Linked DNA regions of Homo sapiens. The protein of the gene in region 1 purifies or fractionates together with the protein of each later gene. This does not show direct contact. Each region holds a gene or a part of one and is shown on either strand. Other genes may lie near its edges.

The links. The genes of interacting proteins can lie anywhere in the genome.
Region 2: the proteins of SERPINE2 (region 1) and PLAT purify together in Homo sapiens (affinity purification with mass spectrometry; one large-scale study listed by BioGRID and IntAct). This does not show direct contact.

Annotation. Positions count from the first base shown.
Region 1 is NC_000002.12:224,000,374-224,005,414, reverse strand, and holds part of SERPINE2 (glia-derived nexin isoform b precursor), read left to right. Parts: intron 1-3,492; coding exon of another isoform or gene 3,493-3,514; coding exon 3,515-3,773; intron 3,774-5,041. UniProt on the Homo sapiens protein: Serine protease inhibitor with activity toward thrombin, trypsin, and urokinase. Promotes neurite extension by inhibiting thrombin. Binds heparin.
Region 2 is NC_000008.11:42,175,775-42,180,815, forward strand, and holds part of PLAT (tissue-type plasminogen activator isoform 1 preproprotein), read right to left. Parts: intron 4,912-5,041; coding exon 4,716-4,911; intron 4,605-4,715; coding exon 4,468-4,604; intron 4,293-4,467; coding exon 4,152-4,292; intron 3,290-4,151; coding exon 3,123-3,289; intron 378-3,122; coding exon 219-377; 3' UTR 1-218. UniProt on the Homo sapiens protein: Converts the abundant, but inactive, zymogen plasminogen to plasmin by hydrolyzing a single Arg-Val bond in plasminogen.

The DNA.
Region 1 (5,041 bases):
CTGCCCAGCACATCAATCAAAAATAGCTCTGATTCCAAGTTCTGCACAGCTCTAACACTGTCCCAGTGCACTTTTATGAAACTGTACATAGACAGCTCTCAAAAACTTCCCAAGTCCAAGAAACCCAGAAAAACACCCATAACAGCTTTCTTCCGTGTCATAGGAAAACTGTTCTTTTAGCGAAAATTTATAATGAAGCAGAATTCTGCTAAATAAGATGGCTGTTTATTTGGGAGACTGTCCTTGTGACTTTAAGACATTGGAGCTGTTAGATTTCTCACTGTCACTGATCCTTTCACCCTGTTTTTACAATGTTTTATATATATATATATATATATATATATATATAATATATATAAAATATATAAAATATATTTATATATTATATAATATAATATATAATACTACATATATATAATATATATGTAGTATTTGAGTCTATCAACTTTAAGCTACCAGAGGCAAAACCAGTTTAATGTTCATGTCTTCTGAATCCAAATTCTAATATTTATTCAAATATTCACTAATCTAGGAGCATTTCTTTGGGGAGGCTTCAGGAGTACAGATTATAGTGGGCCGAATGTAGACACCAGAATAGACTATAATGCAAGAGACAACAATTGAGATGGATGAAGTTGGTCACTGCATTTGGCCATTTGTAAGAAAGATTGTACACAATGTTTTATACTTATGATGACTTTGTGCTATATTAAATTTTAAAGAGGATATTTATTGCTCAAAAGAAAGAAAAGGCAAGAGGGAGGAAGGAAGGGGAGAACACAGTTTCTAGTTTTTAGATGGAATGAATAAAGCTTCCACGGTCATGATTTGGACGCTCTCCAAAGTCCAGTAGGCTCCAGGAAACTCCAGGGATTGTCGTGGCATTAGAGCCAGTCCTAGGTGCCAAAGTCAAAATAGGCCACGCTGGCCCGTTGAGCCCAAGCGGGAGCAGCGTATGTAGGTCACTTACATGTTTTGAATTTAGACGGGCTGAGTTGATACAATTGTTTTACAATGAAGCTCTGGAGAAACACGGAACATTCTAAATCTTTAGAAAAGCGCTTGTTTCACAACATATAAGAAACTTGCAACATCAGCTGGAAGGATGGCCTCAGTGGTTCACAGTGGGGCCCTCTGTGTCGGGGGGCCAGGCAGGGAGTTCTGCGTGTGCCCACAGTCCTTGCTCGATGTGATGGTGGCTCTTCCCTCAGAGAGTGTCTTGAGCTGACCGTGAGGATCAGGATTAAACACAAGCGTTTTCTTAGCCACACTCCATAAACGCTGTTGTGATGCAGGGAAAGATTAATTAATAAAAATAGGAAGTATTTATGAGCCATCGGATTAATCTCACAAGTGTTTATTGAACATCTCCTACGCCCTAGGGTGGGAAGCACAGAAAGTGTGTAGAAAGGAAGGCAAGGAGACACCAAATACGGGGCCAGTTTTGCCTAACACTGTGGTTGTGCCCATGCTTTCCCCCAGAGCACACAGAGACATGATTTCCCCCTCCCTCCAGGTCACCTGTCTCTTAAAAGGCCCCCTTCTGTTTTATTCTCTGCAGTCACCCCTAACCTCCCACACGTAACAACAGAGTGGGACACATTGGCTCCACGGGAGACTGTGCTTAGCAGGAGCTTGGGCCTCTTGGGGAAGAACTGAATTAGCAACATCACGAATGCTGCTTTTGTTTTACCAGCTGCCACTGTTAAGTTCTTACTTAATGAAAGTATTTGCTTTTCCATAAATACATGTAAATTTCCTACCTCTTACTTGTCATAGCCAGAGAAAGCTCTGTGAGTGGTAATTAAGGAAGGAAGCTTCTTTAAAACAAATCACTGTAGTTGAGAACATCCGTGTAAGCAACACCATCCTCAAAATTGATGAATTTACCAATTGTCCTACCCTATTGTAACTTTAAAGCAGTCACTTAAGTTTATTTTAATTAATAATTCTTTAATTTTAAAAGCAGTGTGCTTATGGTAAAAGAATCAAGCGCTTGTGGTTATAAGATAATCAGAGCAACCCGAGGGATTCACTCCCTTGTTTGAAATCCTCCAGGGGTTTCTTGTAACCCTTGGAGTGAAATCCCAGTGCCTTTCCAGGCTCTACAGGACCTTACCAGATCTGAACTCTCCTTCGGCTTCACCCACCTGTCTCCCTTCTTTACGACCTTGATTTCACATCCACACTGGCCTCTAATACACCAAGTTTATTCCCACGTCAGGGCCTCGGCCCTGCTCTCCCTCTGCCCAGCGTACTGTTTACCCATCAGAGTGTGGCTGGCTCCTTCCCCCATTCAGGTCTCATCACGATGTTCCTGCCATAGAGATGGCTCCCTGATCACCCTATCTAATGACCACCCCCCGCACCCTGCCGGCCCCTCATCTGCTCGCATCCCTGTATTTTATCATTGTGCTCTTTATCCTTTTCTGAAAATGCTTTATTGCTTGCTGGCTTATTTTCTGTCTCCCTTCTAGATTGTAAGCTCAGTGCGGGTGAGAGTCTTGTCCATTCAGTTATGTCATATGCCTAACACTTAGAAAAGGGTCCGACACCCAGTGAACCCTCAGTAAATATTGGCTTAATTGGATGAAGGGCACTTATGAGAATTAAATAATGATTAGGCTGAGCATGGTGGCTCACGCCTGTAATCCCAGCATTTTGGGAGGCCGGATCACTTGAGGCCAGACATTCGAGACCAGCCTGGCAAACACAGTGAAACCTCATCTCTACTAAAAAAAAAAAAAAAAAAAAAATTGCCAGACGAGTTGGCGCACACTTGTAATCCCACATATTCAGGAAGCTGAGACGTGAGAATCACTTGAACCCGGGAGGCGGAGGTTGCAGTGAGCCGAGATTGCGCCACTGCACTCCAGCCTGGGCAGCAGAGTGAGACTGTTTCAAAATAAATAAATAAATAAAAATAAAATAACCGAGAATTAAATAATGATTAGTATAGGACCTGGCACATTGTAAGGACCCAAGAGATGGAAGTTTGCTTCCTTTCCCTCCCCACCTCCCCAGGGTGTGTTTTGAAAACTGATTTAATTACACTGTTCTGTCTTAAATATATTCACATGGCATTCAATTATGCTGAGTACAGTCAAGCATACTAGGTGAGTACAAAATGGCCTCGCAGGCCAGGTACAGTGGCTCACACCTGTAATCCCAGCACTTTGGGAGGCTGAGTCAGGCAGATCACTTGAGGTCAGGAGTTTGAGACCAGCCTGGCCAACATGGTGAAATCCCATCTCTACTAAAAATACAAAAATTAGCCGTGTATGGTGGTACACGCCTGTAATTCCAGCTACTCAGGGGGCTGAGGCAGGAGAATTGCTTGAACCCAGGAGGCGGAGGTTGCAGTGAGCTGAGATGGCACCACTTCACTCCAGCCTGGGTGAAAGAACGAGTCTCTATCTGGGGGAAAAAAAAAAAAAGTAGTAAAGTACCCATTTAAGTATAATTTAAATATTTTTTAACTTACTTTTCCAGGTCGTCCTTGGTGGAAGGAACCATGAACTGGCATCTCCCCCTCTTCCTCTTGGCCTCTGTGACGCTGCCTTCCATCTGCTCCCACTTCAATCCTCTGTCTCTCGAGGAACTAGGCTCCAACACGGGGATCCAGGTTTTCAATCAGATTGTGAAGTCGAGGCCTCATGACAACATCGTGATCTCTCCCCATGGGATTGCGTCGGTCCTGGGGATGCTTCAGCTGGGGGCGGACGGCAGGACCAAGAAGCAGCTCGCCATGGTGATGAGATACGGCGTAAATGGTGCGTGTGCACAATTGCTCACTGGCGGAGCCTTTGCCTGAGAGTCTTGTGACAGGAGGGTTTATGGCTTGGTTTTTGCTGACAACCCCAAGAAGCAGAGCAGCCAGAAGGGGATTTGCTGGTGCCACTTGGGGCTTGGGGTCAGTCTCTTCTAAAGAACAAACACTGTGGTGCTGGCAGTTAGGAGAACTAGACTCTGGTCCCTTTTTTGTACTTTTGGAGCTTGGGGTCTGCCACTAGGTCTCCTTTCCCAGGGCTCCAGCCCTCGTTCCAGCGAGGGGGACACTTCCTGGCTTACCGCCTCCATGGCGCCCAGGGTTGAGTTGCGCTGTGATCGTAGATGTGCTTGTGAAGCCTGTGAGAGGAGCTGGGAAGGGGTGGCTGTGGAGGGCCCAGGGGCCTCGTAGTGATGGAGCCATCCTGGGTCTTGATTGTGGTGGTGGCCACACAAATCTGCACAAATGATAAAGTTGCACAGACCCCCCTCCCCAAGCCCACAACAGGAGTGTATGGAAAATGAGTGAAATCTGAATGCACCCTGTGGACTGACCTGATGGAAATTTCCTGATGCAACGACGGTACCACTGGGAAGACTGGGTGAAAGGCACGTGGGACTTCCTTGCATATTGTTTTGCCACTTCCTGTAAATCTATAATTATTTCAAAATATAAAGCTAAGCAAAGACTTGGAACCAACCCGAATGTCCATCAATGATAGACTGGATAAAGAAAATATGGCACATATACACCATGGAATACTATGCAGCCATAAAAAAGAGTGAGTTCATGTCCTTGCAGGGACATGGATGAAGCTGGAAACCATCATTCTCAGCAAACGCAGGAACAGAAAACCAAACACGGCATGTTCTCACTCAAAAGTGGGAGTTGAACAATGAGAACACATGGACACAGGGAGGGGAACATCACACACTGGGGCCTGTCGAGGGGTGGAAGGCAAGGGGAGGGAAAGCATTAGGACAGATACCTAATGCATGTGGGGCTTAAAACCTAGATGACAGGTTGATGGGTGCAGCAAACCACCACGACACATGTGTACCTATGTAATAAACCTACACGTTCTGCACATGTATCCCAGAGCTTAAAGAAAAGATACAGATAGATAGATAGATACGTAGAGAGAGAGAGCGAGCTAAAAAAATTGTTTTAAAGTAAGGCCCAATGAAAAAGATTTAGTTTGAGTTAAAGAAAAACCTTTCTTAAATGACCCATTTAACTGCACGAGCTTCATCCTCTGGCACTGTTTTACTT
Region 2 (5,041 bases), on another chromosome or scaffold:
ATCTGACAGAGTATCCTGAAATCAGACCAAGTCCTGAAAACTTCCAAAATGGGAAGTATCTGGGAAAATGCACTCTTCCCTCTCCTGTAGGGTCTCGTCCCGCTTCTGCGGTGTGGTGGGTCTGGAGAAGTCTGTAGAGAAGCACTGCGCCTTTGCAGTGTCTTCTGAAGAAGAAGAGGCGGGATCTCATTTGCTTTTGAGGAGTCGGGTGTTCCTGGTCACGGTCGCATGTTGTCACGAATCCAGTCTAGGTAGTTGGTAACCTTGGTGTACACACCCGGGACATCCTTCTGTCCACAGCCCAGGCCCCAGCTGATGATGCCCACCAAAGTCATGCGGCCATCGTTCAGACACACCAGGGGGCCTCCCGAATCGCCCTGCAAAGGAGATAGCAGGTTTGGCGTTTGCAAAAAAAGCAGACTATCTGGAGAAAGTCAGTATGTGTAGCATGAACATCGTAATCTTCAAAATACAGCAGGCCCTTCAATAATATTCCATTCAGTGTCATTTCATTATAACTTTGATGAGGAAAACAAAAATCAATTCCTGTCTGGGGACACTGTCTGCCTGGGTTTTGTCCAGGTACCCCGGTTTCCTTCCACATCCCAAAGCTTGCACATTAAGCCAACTGAGGATGTATCTACGTGGGCCCAGTCTGAGTGAGTGTGGGTGTTAGTGGCTCTGCAATAGGATGGTGGCGTCTGTCCAGGGCTGGTCCCGCCTGGCGCCCTGAGCTGCCAGGTGGCTCTGGCCACCCCCACCCAAGACCCTGAACCGGAATAAGCACGTTGGAAAATGAATGAATACAAAGTGTTATAAAGTAAAAATCTGTCTAGTCTGTGCTAAATACACGAATGCATGATAAACTGTGAGGTGTGGAGGCAGTCAGGGAGCCTGCCCTATTTGTGATTGTTTTTGAACTTCATGGTAGTAAGAGGTGTTCCTTACCATTTTTGCTTTGCAAACATTTATTCCCTGAATTAACCCACCACTATTATGGCCGCCATCATTCACTTATTCTCCAAAAATTGGGTAAATAAATACCATGTTTGTTTTTATTAACCTTTCTTAAATGTTGTATAGCTCACATTTATTTCAATATTGAATGTTAGAAGTGTTTTGGGTCTTTATTTAGAAGTTTGCTGATGTTTTTATGACTAGAAATATTGCCACAAGAACTTCACTCTTCTTTTTTTGTTTTTTTTTGTTTTTTTGTTTTGAGACAGAGTCTCACTCTGTCACCCACCCAGGCTGGAGTGCAGTGGCGCAATCTCAGCTCACTGCACCCTCCACCTCCGGGGTTCAAGCAATTCTCGTGCTTATGGGCACGCACCACCACACCTGGCTAATTTTTGTGTTTTTAGTAGAGGCAGGGTTTCACCATGGTGGCCAGGCTGGTCTCGAACTCCTGACCTCAGGTGATCTGCCTTCCTCAGCCTCTCAAAGTGCTGGGATTACAGGCATGAGCCCCGCACCTGACCAACTCTTGTTTATATCAATTAGCTGGTGGTAAAATTGGTTTTGTTATACGTCATTTCACTTACAGTTGCAGTTTCTAAGAACCTATTTTTTCCAGGCATGCTGTTAAGTGGAGACTTACTGAAGAGTGGGTAGATTGTATCTCAGTTATCTTGGTCCCATGGAGGATTAGGCTGTATCTATTCTGGTAAAGTAGAGTTAATTACTCAAACGTTTCAGGCCTCAAAAACCCTGGCTTGGCTCCATCACTTACTAGCTGATGGCCTTAGACTAACCATGCTTTGGTTTTCTTATCTGTACCATAGAGATAATATTCATACTACCCATAGAGTGGTTATGGCATTCAGTAGAAGAATGCATGAAAAGCACTGGAAGACATCTAGTAAAACTCTTGGTAATTGTTAGCTGTTCTTATATTGAATTAAAATGATTTGGTTTTGCTTTTAACTAAGCTTGCAGATAGATAATGGTTTCACTTTGGTACAACCTTTTTGTTTCTGGACTGTAAGCTGGTACAGCTGAGGTTGCTGAAGAAACCATTCAAAAAGAAACTAAATCCTGTCAGGGAATCAGAGGGGAAACCGCCGATATGACTGCCTTGCGAAAACAAAGCCCACACATCCTTCAGCACCAGAGCCTGGCCTCACTTCTCTTTGTATCTCTTCTACCCCCAGCCCCTAAAGGAGAGCTTCGCACGCTGCAGGCACTGAAATGTCTGAGGAAGATCAATTCCTTGGCTCTGTGCAGGTCTTAATACCAGCAGGCTGGCCTGTCCTCCCATACCCCAGTATCTGGCTAATCATGAAATATAAGTACTAATTCTGATAAGGATGCCCACACAAAGGACCTCAAATAGTGTGCTTTCCCAGGGTATTAGGGCTGAATGTGAGTTTTGAAAACTTCTTTCTCACATCATCTAGATCCTGCTTCCCAGTAAGTTGCCTTTCTTCCTTCTCCTTCTACAAAGCAGACTCCAATTCTCTAGTGCCAACAGAGGCAAACATTTCTTTCTTTTTTTTTTTTTTTTTTTTTTTGAGATCGAGTTTCGCTCTTGTTGCCCAGGCTGAAGCGCAATGGCGCGATCTCGGCTCACTGCAACCTCTGCCTCCCGGGTTCAAGCGATTCTCCTGCCTCAGCCTCCTGAGTAGCTGGGATTACAGGCATGTGCCACCATGCCAGGCTAATTTTGTATTTTTAGTAGAGATGGGGTTTCTCCATGTTGGTCAGGCTGGTCTCGAACTCCTGACCTCAGGTGAGCCTCCCACCTCAGCCTCCCAAAGTGCTGGGATTACAGGCGTGAACCACCACACCAGGCTGAGGCAAACGTTTCTTAATTGTGTGGCTCTCTCCATCACTTCAATAGTCAATCAATTGCCTGGGCTGAAAGGAAATCCTGTACAGGTGGAGTTGCCTGTGCAGATCCTGGGGAAATTTCCTGCAGTTTAGAATTCTTAGGTTTAGGTGACTTTGATCTTCCTCCAGTTGCTTTATTCTGTGAGGCCCTCATCTAGAATCCCCAGGGGTATCACTAAGAGGAAATCACTCCACTCTGGTGATAACTTTTTTCTTTGGTGAAGAACCTGTTGTCCCAGGGGCATTCTCCCCTGGGTTGTGCCCAGCATGGGCGCGCCACTCCTGGTTACCTGGCAGGCGTCGTGCAAGTTTGCCTGGGGCCCGCCGCTCCGAGTGTCTCCAGCACACAGCATGTTGTCGGTGACTGTTCTGTTAAGTAAATGTTGTGATGTGCAGCGGCTGGATGGGTACAGTCTGACATGAGCCTCCTTCAGCCGCTCCGAATAGAAAGGAGACACTGAAAGGGGAGAACCATCATATGGTTTTAGGGAAAGTTATTTATAAACGTTTTTGAAAGAGAAAGCCAAATTTTCCAATAATAGCTAACATTGATCAAGATTCAACATGTATTAGGTCGAATCCTATGACACTGCTGGTATTTTATCGTTTTGACCCACAAAAACAGCAGGATTCCGGGATTGAACCCACAGCCTCTCCGTAGTGGCACTGCTGATGCTTCGGACCAGGGAGGTCCCTGTTGTGGGGGATGGGGACAGTCCCGAGCCCTGCAGTGTGCAGCATCCCTGGCTGCACTCACTGAAGGCCGGCGTTAACCCTCACCCTAAACTGTAACAACCAAAAACGTCTCCAGACCTCGCCAAACGTTTCCTGGGGGACAAAATCACCCCAGCTGACATCCATTCGTTCAATATTATCTCATTTAACCCTCCTAATCTAATTAGGGAGATAGTTCTATCTCCACTTTACCAACGAGGAAACTGAGGCTGGGAGCAGTTCAAAATAAAAATCCATGTCCACGGTCACACAGCTCAGCAAGTGGGATTTGAAATCGGGTCTTTGTAACTCCAGCTTCCCAGAACCCACACGCTTAGCGACTGTACTCCACTTCCTACTCAGAACCTTCCCAACACCTGCAGCACTTCGAGGCCCTCATACTGTTGTGTCCTTTCCTGGCCTGCAGTGTCCCTGTGAGGCAGAGACAGCAGAGACGGGCCCCCACGACACAGGGAGACGGGACTGGCGTCAGTGCCTGACCCGGGGCTGGAACTTCGGTCTCCTGACCCCATTTTCCTCTGGTGGACCGCAGCCTCCCCTGCTGTCCCGCAGACAGGATGGGGCCGAGACTTCCTTCCACTTACAGGCCTCATGCTTGCCGTAGCCGGAGAGCTCACACTCCGTCCAGTCCGGCAGCTGCAGGTCCGCCGGGGGAAGGCACACAGTGCGGACCACGCTGCTCTCCTGGGCACAGCGGGACGAATCCGATTTCAGCTGCAGCAGCGCTGGGAGGGAGAAAGGAGGAGTGAGCTGGCGTGAGGGCCGCGTCCCCGGGAGGGGAGGAACACGCAGGAGGGGCAGGGGCTGGAGGAGGAGGCCCGTGTGTGTAAACATAGGTGAGTGCATGTGGGTGTGTTGTGTGATCTGTATGAACTGGAGCCGGGAATGACGAGCTCTTACCAATGTCATTGTCGTAAGTGTCATCATCGAATTCCTTATGGACAATGTATTTTTCGACTTCAAATTTCTGCTCCTCCTCGCCAGGGACCACCCGGTATGTTCTGCCCAAGATCACCGTCAGGTGGTGGGGCGGAAACCTGGTGGAGAAACAGCCTTAGAATGCTTTTTTTGCTGTGGGATTTCCCCTAAAGGGCTTGGTTTCTAGGCGTTAGAGGGTGGAAAAACCAACTGGGTTTCCGAGCCCCTACCTCTCCTGGAAGCAGTGGGCGGCAGAGAGAATCCAGCAGGAGCTGATGAGTATGCCCCCGCACAGGAACCGCTCTCCGGGCGACCTCCTGTGCTTGGCAAAGATGGCAGCCTGCCAGGGGTGGGAGGCGATGTCGGCGAAGAGCCCTCCTTTGATGCGAAACTGAGGCTGGCTGTACTGTCTCAGGCCGCAGGTGGCTGGGGAGGAAAGGACGAGGAGGCAGTCAGTCCCACAGGCCTCCTGCACGTGTGTAGGTAGAGTGAGGAGGCCATCAGCATGGCTGTAAAACCACAACTTTCACTTGGTGGGATCAGCATGCCGAATGTT